2 linked regions of the Homo sapiens genome follow. The protein of the gene in region 2 interacts with the protein of the main gene of each other region in a biochemical or structural test. Each region holds a gene or a part of one and is shown on either strand. Other genes may lie near its edges.

The links.
Region 1: the proteins of EDIL3 (region 2) and POLI form a complex in vitro, tested with the Homo sapiens proteins (one study listed by BioGRID).

Annotation. Positions count from the first base shown.
Region 1 is NC_000018.10:54,272,390-54,276,143, reverse strand, and holds part of POLI (DNA polymerase iota isoform a (long)), read right to left. Parts: intron 2,219-3,754; coding exon 2,054-2,218; intron 1-2,053. UniProt on the Homo sapiens protein: Error-prone DNA polymerase specifically involved in DNA repair. Plays an important role in translesion synthesis, where the normal high-fidelity DNA polymerases cannot proceed and DNA synthesis stalls. Favors Hoogsteen base-pairing in the active site.
Region 2 is NC_000005.10:84,105,222-84,108,975, reverse strand, and holds part of EDIL3 (EGF-like repeat and discoidin I-like domain-containing protein 3 isoform 1 precursor), read left to right. Parts: intron 1-2,145; coding exon 2,146-2,327; intron 2,328-3,754. UniProt on the Homo sapiens protein: Promotes adhesion of endothelial cells through interaction with the alpha-v/beta-3 integrin receptor. Inhibits formation of vascular-like structures. May be involved in regulation of vascular morphogenesis of remodeling in embryonic development.

The DNA of each region.
Region 1 (3,754 bases), on a different chromosome or scaffold from region 2:
GCCTCCCAAAGTGTTGGGATTACAGGCATAAGCCACCATGCCCAGCCTCCATTCCTGAAGTTAACCTCTTTCTTGGTATCAACTTCATAAGCAAGATACATTTATTAAACATATAATTATATAGGGCCCAAAAGAGGAGTCTGTAATTACAGAAAAAAAAAATACCTTGAAGAAAGGTATATATGCAGTAGCATCAAAATATGAAATAAATAATAAGGTTATAAACAGATCAGAGATAAATACAGTAAAGGACTAACTGGCTACGCGCCTACTTCAACTCAGAAAAATACTGTGAGAAAAATTGATAAAGTAACTTTTTTCAAAAAATACCTAACACAAAAAGTACTAGGTACTTAGTACTTAGAAAAAGATGAACAACCCAAATTAAAAACAGGTGCAAGTGAATACGTTAACAGAAAAAAATACATAAATGACCAAAAATATATGAAAAAATACTCAACCTTACTCATGGAAAACTGCAAATCAAAACAATGATTTACTCTTCTTCATCTATATGATGAATATGAGAGGAGGCATTTAGGCCATAATTTTACACATTTGGAAAAACATGATACATGACTTTGTACCTTGCCTTTTATTCACTCAACAAGCCCTATCTCCATCAGTCAAATAGTATTGCACCAATGAATTCTTTTTAATGGCTATATAATATCCATTATACAGATGTTTTAGTTTATTTGGCTATTTCTCTTGATGGGCATTTTTCCTTCCATACTTTTGACAATCATAAACCATGCTATGATAAACATTGTTGTACATATGTCTTTATGTACTTGTGGTTCTCTTTCTTTTTTAGAGACAAGAGTCTCACTCTGTCATGCGCACTCAGGCTGCAATGCAATGACACAATCACGGCTCACAGCCTCGAGCTTCTAGGCTCAAGCAATCCTCCTACCTCAGCTCCAAAAGTGCTGGGATTACAGGTATGAGCCACAATACCCAGCCTTATGATTTTATTTCTATTTGATAAACTCCCAGCAATGATATCACTGGATTGAAGAACATTCATCTTTAAACTCAGTAAGTGTTCTTGATACTTTTTTCTCACATTGCTTTTAATTTTGGGCAAGTATGACAGATATAAAATATCTTACTAATTCAAATTTCCTTGGCCACTAATGAATTTGAGCATTTTTTCCCTATAATTGTTAGACACTGGGTTAGGCTCTTCTTGTCAACTGCCTATTCATATCCTTTGTCCTTTGTTATTAGGTTTATTTTTCCTGTTAATTTCTAAGAGGTCTTTGTATATTATAGACATTTAATCCAGTCATCTGAAAATTGCTATCATAAAAGAAAAACAAAAAAAGTAAAAAAGACAAATAATTGCAAAGCTGATCATTATACATTTTTACACTATATATTAAGTAATTGCGGTTTTCGCAATTAAAAGTAATTGTGAAAGCCACAATTACTTTTGCATCAACCTACTATATTTGCAATGTGCCAGTGCACACTCATTTTCATTTTTCCTGTAATTTACTATAACACTAAGATTTAAACCCAAACCTTAGCATAGGAAAGTTTAGCTACATTGTAATATTTAGTATATATATAAAACCTAAGAAAATATTAATATATCCAATATTTTTATTAATATTTCATAAGAAATCAGTTTTTAATTATGTTGATCAAATGTTACAGAAGCCTCTTTCAATTATCATTAGTGCATTAGAAAACAACATATTTCTTCGTAATTCATTTAAACTTAAAATTTTAAAGACCTGGCATCTTTTACAGTACAGTTTCCCATTTTCTCACTTTTAAACTTTGTTTTCCACTTTTCCCTGTTATATAAACATCAATAATAAGAGTTAAAATTACTTCCAACTATACATCTTCTTAAAAATACTATTCATAGCATACAGTTATCCTTTCACATAATTTTTAAAGTTGACAAGACCCAAAATAAGAAGTTATTAGGAAAAAGCATCTTGACTTATGTTATTTTACATTTATTAAAAAATTCATGTAATGAACAGGCATCCTACATAAAAATTAATGCTAAAAGTACATTGCTTATCATTTGTACCTGTAACCTTATAAGACATTTCTCTGTAGCGGGTCAGGTCTTCTCCATTAACTAATACCAACTGTGGACACTTTTCTTTTGCATCTCTGACATTCATAAGTTTCTTAACTCCAAGTTTCCTAGCTTCATAGTTGCAGGTAACCACCAAATATTTCTGTTGAACCCCTGTAAAAAATATTTTATGAGAAACCCAAGCACAATTGAAGAAAACATTTAAAGATATTATTAATTCCGTATTACATTTGTCTAAATTGTAAGACAATCAGTTTTGATAAGAATCAAAAGCCCTGTCTCAATTAAAAAACATAGCCTCCATATATCAAATCTCTATAATGCAGAAACATTAGGTTTTCAAGCTATCTCCTAATTATGAATTATAATATACCAATGTATTATTTTTCCATACCCCACTTTTAATCTCTAGTTGTTTTGTCTCCTTGAAGAAGGAAAGTTATTATTAAATAACAAAACACTGAATAACACAGAATTAAAAGTTAGACGATAGATCAATTATTCATATACAAAAGGCAATCTATGTATTACATTTCTAAAATTTAAAAATGAACCTAAATCAATATATTCTATGGAATCTTCAGTGATAAGATACAAATCAAATCTCTCTAGGATTTTTTTCCAGACAATATAAAAGCAGATTAATTTATACTGCCATATAATAGGGCATGTTCTACCAAAAAAAAAAAAAACGGATGAAAATAATTGAGTACAACTAAATACTGGTTGCTGCTAGAAAAACTCAACTTCTCTTCTCCGTAACTTGCTAATATAAAGCAATATAAAATATAATATGTATATAAAATATATAAAACAAGTGCTGGGCTACAGCAATTTTTAGGGATCTAACAGTTATGTACTACTTATTGAACTGTTCTATCAAAAATGATTAAATTATGATCATTTATTTACAGACTGCATAAAAAATTCTAGTTTATTGGTGACTCAAGATTGCTAAAAATTATTTGCTCTTTTTTTATACAAGTTGACTACTTGCTTACCACTGTAAGAGTAATGTTCACCTAAAATATGTAAAATACAAACATGTAGAAAAAAAAGGTTATGTCCACTTCTCTATTAGACATTGTTTCTAAAATTTTGATATCATAAACAACATTATTTTTATATAAAGTTTTTTCATATATCAGGTAATGCCCAAAAATATAATCATGGAACCAAAGGTAATAATAATTTGAGATTCCTCAGTGAACTACATAAAAAATCAGATTGCTAGATTTCTTAACTAAAAAAAGGAGTCCTTTAATAGAGCATTACATTATATGGCCTCATCACTGCATGTCACTACTGGTCGGGCACGGTGGCTCACGTCTGTAGTCCCCGCACTTTGGGAGGCCAAGGCAGGTGGATCGCCTGAATTCAAGCATACGAGACCACCCAGGGCAACATGGTGAAACCGTCTCTACTAAAAATACAAAAAAATTAACCGAGTATGGTGGCGCACACCTCTAGTCCCAGCTACTTGGAAGGCTGAGGCAGGAGAATCACCTGAGCCCCAGAGGCAAAGCTTGCAGTAAGCCAAGATCGCACCACTGCACTGCAGCTTGGGCTACAGAGTGAGACCCCTTCTCAACAACAACAACAAAAACAAAATGAAAGACTACTTTCGTTTTCCCCCAAAAACATGGAGCATTCATATCCCTCACTTCCCAATAATCATTCATTCGTACT
Region 2 (3,754 bases):
AAAATAGTTACAAATTCTGTGAAGATATCTAATTCAGCATAAGGTCTTTAGAGGTATACAACTAAATGGCACAGAGTTATTTTTAAGTCTGCCATACAGCTCATTAATCAATTCTGGCTCTCTAGCTCTGCTAGTCTACTTACTGGCCTACAATAAATGGCCTGCAATAAAAGATCTCCCTGCCTGTTTCATTTTTCCATCCAAACATTGTACAAACTAAGGACAAGATGCTTGAGACCCCTTTGATGACAATATTATTAAAAAGCTAGGCTCCTGCCATTACTAAAGTCACAGTGTCATCATGAAAGTTTCTTAGTACGTTTATGAAGTCTGTAAAGATCTTGAAGTTTAAAATGGAAAGCAAAATAAGGGTCCAAAGAATTAATATCTGAACTTTTAACGTTAAGTTTTTGGGAATGTGAAAATCAGATTATCATCTGCAGCTCGTAAGACTTCAATTCTACTAATGAATGGCTTCTTAATTTAATGATTCTAAAGTGATATAGTATACTTTCATAAAGTGCTAAGCAGTCCTAATTACATGTTAAAAAAAGATCTTATTATCTAAATTTATCATACCAAGTAATTTTTTGTCAATGGCAAAGATGCAATTTTTACTGTATTAATGTTGTCTTTACTAATACAGTCTGATTAAGATGATTACTTATCCATATATTTTTATCTTCTTTATAAAAAAATTTAAAAATTTGAAAGCCATCAGAGCTACTTACCATGTTTATGACAATTAAAAATATGGTTAACAGTGAGAAATATCTTACTAAGTTTCAAAAATATTATAATTTGGCTCCTAATATTTTTTCTTATTTTCAACCTCAATCTAAGTGTAAACATTTAATTACTGACAAATGTTGGATTTTGACAGTAATTAAAATCTAAAATGTACTTGGTCATAATCACCAATCAAGTTGACTTTCATATACTGATATTTAGTAGTAGCAATGAACTTCTTTCTTATTTTCATAAATTCTGATAAATTATTGTAGTATATTTTTATAATACAATTATCGTATATATTATACAAATCTAAATTGGCAAAATATTCAGTATAGTATATGAAATGTTAATGAAATTAAGAACATCTTTTCCTTATATCATATCCCTACTTATTCTGAATTTTCAAAACTGAATTTAAAAGAAATGTACCTTCTGCTGAAATTTTATAACGCAATTAAGAATTTATATATAATTTTATATATAATACAAATATATATGTAATTTTTTAAGGATGGATTTATCTCCATTTCTAATTTGAAAAACTAAATACATTTGGTATCTGAGAACATATCATTTGAGCATAATGTGTTTTAATCTTAGTATTTTAAAATTTCATTGGAAAATTTTCTTAAGTTTCTCAGTTGCAAATGTGAAGATATACATGCAGAATCCCAATATGTAGAATTGTGAATTTGAAACTAAAGTGCTAATAAGTATTTTAATATCTTGATTTACTGAGTTGTACACATTGTCATGTATAATGTTGTCAGAGAGTTTACCTGCTCTCTTTATAAAAATAATTTGTCTACATATATTTTATAATTTATAATATATCATGGGGTATTATAATAATATTTTTAAATGTTAACAGATTTACCCATTTCCCTTTTGTTGTGGAAGCATAACTGATGGTGGGTATAAAAATTTAAGTTATAAAGTTTATAGTAGTGAGAAATGCTAAATTAGTACAAAAATAACTTTGAAAAAAAGCTCAGCTTTATGATAATAAAGAAATAATGGATGGAAAAATATTTGTTGAGAGCTTATAATTTGTGAGGCATGCTAATCTCCGGGAATATAAAATATGAGATAAGCCTTTTAAGAGCATTATGCTTTTGTTGACGTGATCAACAACCAGAAGCTATCAGTACAGAACCAGAATCATAATGCAGAAGGGAAGTGTCTATTAAGTGACTACTTTCAAAGCAAAGAAGGAAGAGAGGGTCATGAGAAGCAAGAATTATTTCCTTAATTTAGAGATCGATAACAGATCTGTAAAGGGGATGAAGAGTAAATAGCATGGTGGTGCAAATTCAAATCATTTAAAAAAATCCTATCAAATCGAACAGACACATGTTGTATATGCATTGTTTCTAATACATTCATATTTTTTCCTGTTTTTGTTTCCAGAATGCTCAGGCCCACTGGGAATTGAAGGTGGAATTATATCAAACCAGCAAATCACAGCTTCCTCTACTCACCGAGCTCTTTTTGGACTCCAAAAATGGTATCCCTACTATGCACGTCTTAATAAGAAGGGGCTTATAAATGCGTGGACAGCTGCAGAAAATGACAGATGGCCGTGGATTCAGGTAACAGATGGGATGGGACAAGGTTAATGTTATAAGTCATTTTTAAATGATTCTGGTCATTTTAAAAAGCAGACAAAAGGGAACTCAGTGTGACTCTTCCTTATGGTCAGAGGAAAGGGTAATTTAGTGAAGAGTTCAAATTAGCTCCCAATTCTGAGAAGTAAAAAACATGCACATTCCATTAAGAAGTTAGTTAAAGAGATCAAAAACGTTAAAAATATTCAGGTATAAATATCACTGTTTTAAGGTGCATATCAAAGCAGGAGACTTTCTGTATACTGTGTGTTCATTACCACTGTGATAACGTTTAGCAGCAACTTATGATACTTTAAGAACATAAAAATTATATCAATGTTTTCTATCTCTAAGAAGTGGGTCCACAAATGCAAGTATAAAATATACCATGCATCATAATAACAATACCTCAAATGCACCTTCTTTCAAGCTGAGGGTGTTTCATTTCATAGTGTTATTCACTCTCATCAACCAGCTATTTTTTAAAACAGGAGAAAACAACAATATACTGAAATATTAAGTGATTTCCCAGAGGGGGTAGCAAGGCCCAGAGCTTATATTTCTGTACATTTCAATGCTTTTTGAGCATTTAGATGAACTATGTACTAGGAGTACAGAAAGATGATCAAAACTGATGTCTGTGAAAGAGTAAACCTCTGTTGGGGAAAGCACATTAATAACCATCTAACAAGTCATTGATGTGTACTAAAGGGAGGAAGAATTCAGTATTCTGTGGTCAGAGGAAGAATTCATTAATTATCTTGAGAAACTCACCTGGGGCAGATAGCTTTTGAGCTAGGCCTGAGAAGGATGGCTTTCAGTAGAGACTGAACATCCAGGGAACAGCCTGATTAAAGATGCTACATGACAATCTGGGGAATATTGTAGAAAATCATGACTAGAGTAAAGGTTGCTGGAGGGATGTGTTCAAATTCATTGTACGAGTTTGCTGTGCTTCGGGAGTCATACTAAAAGGTATTAGCCTTATTTCAGTAGAGTAGGGAGATATTGCAGAGTTTTGATTAGTTTAGGTGATTGATCTGTTCTATCTGTTTACTACGTATTCTAAGTCAAAGAAACATGGAAATCCCTGATGTGACATAATTAGGTGTACTATACAAGAACTAGTTTACAGGCATTTGGTATAAACGAAAATTGATTTATGGCTAAGAGGCAAGACTTCCATACTTGAAAAACTGGGCCAAAATCTCCTTCAGATACTTTCTTTGTTCAGATTTCTTAGGCATTCTTATATGTCTCATAAACATTTCTTTTATCTATAGAGCTCTAATAAGGTTGCCTGAAGTTCTTGTTTTGTATTATGAATTTATATTTACATGAAGTTGTTAAAATTGCTTCTTAAGTTACACTTGACTTTTTCAATCTATAGCAACATGTGCAAAATGAACTCC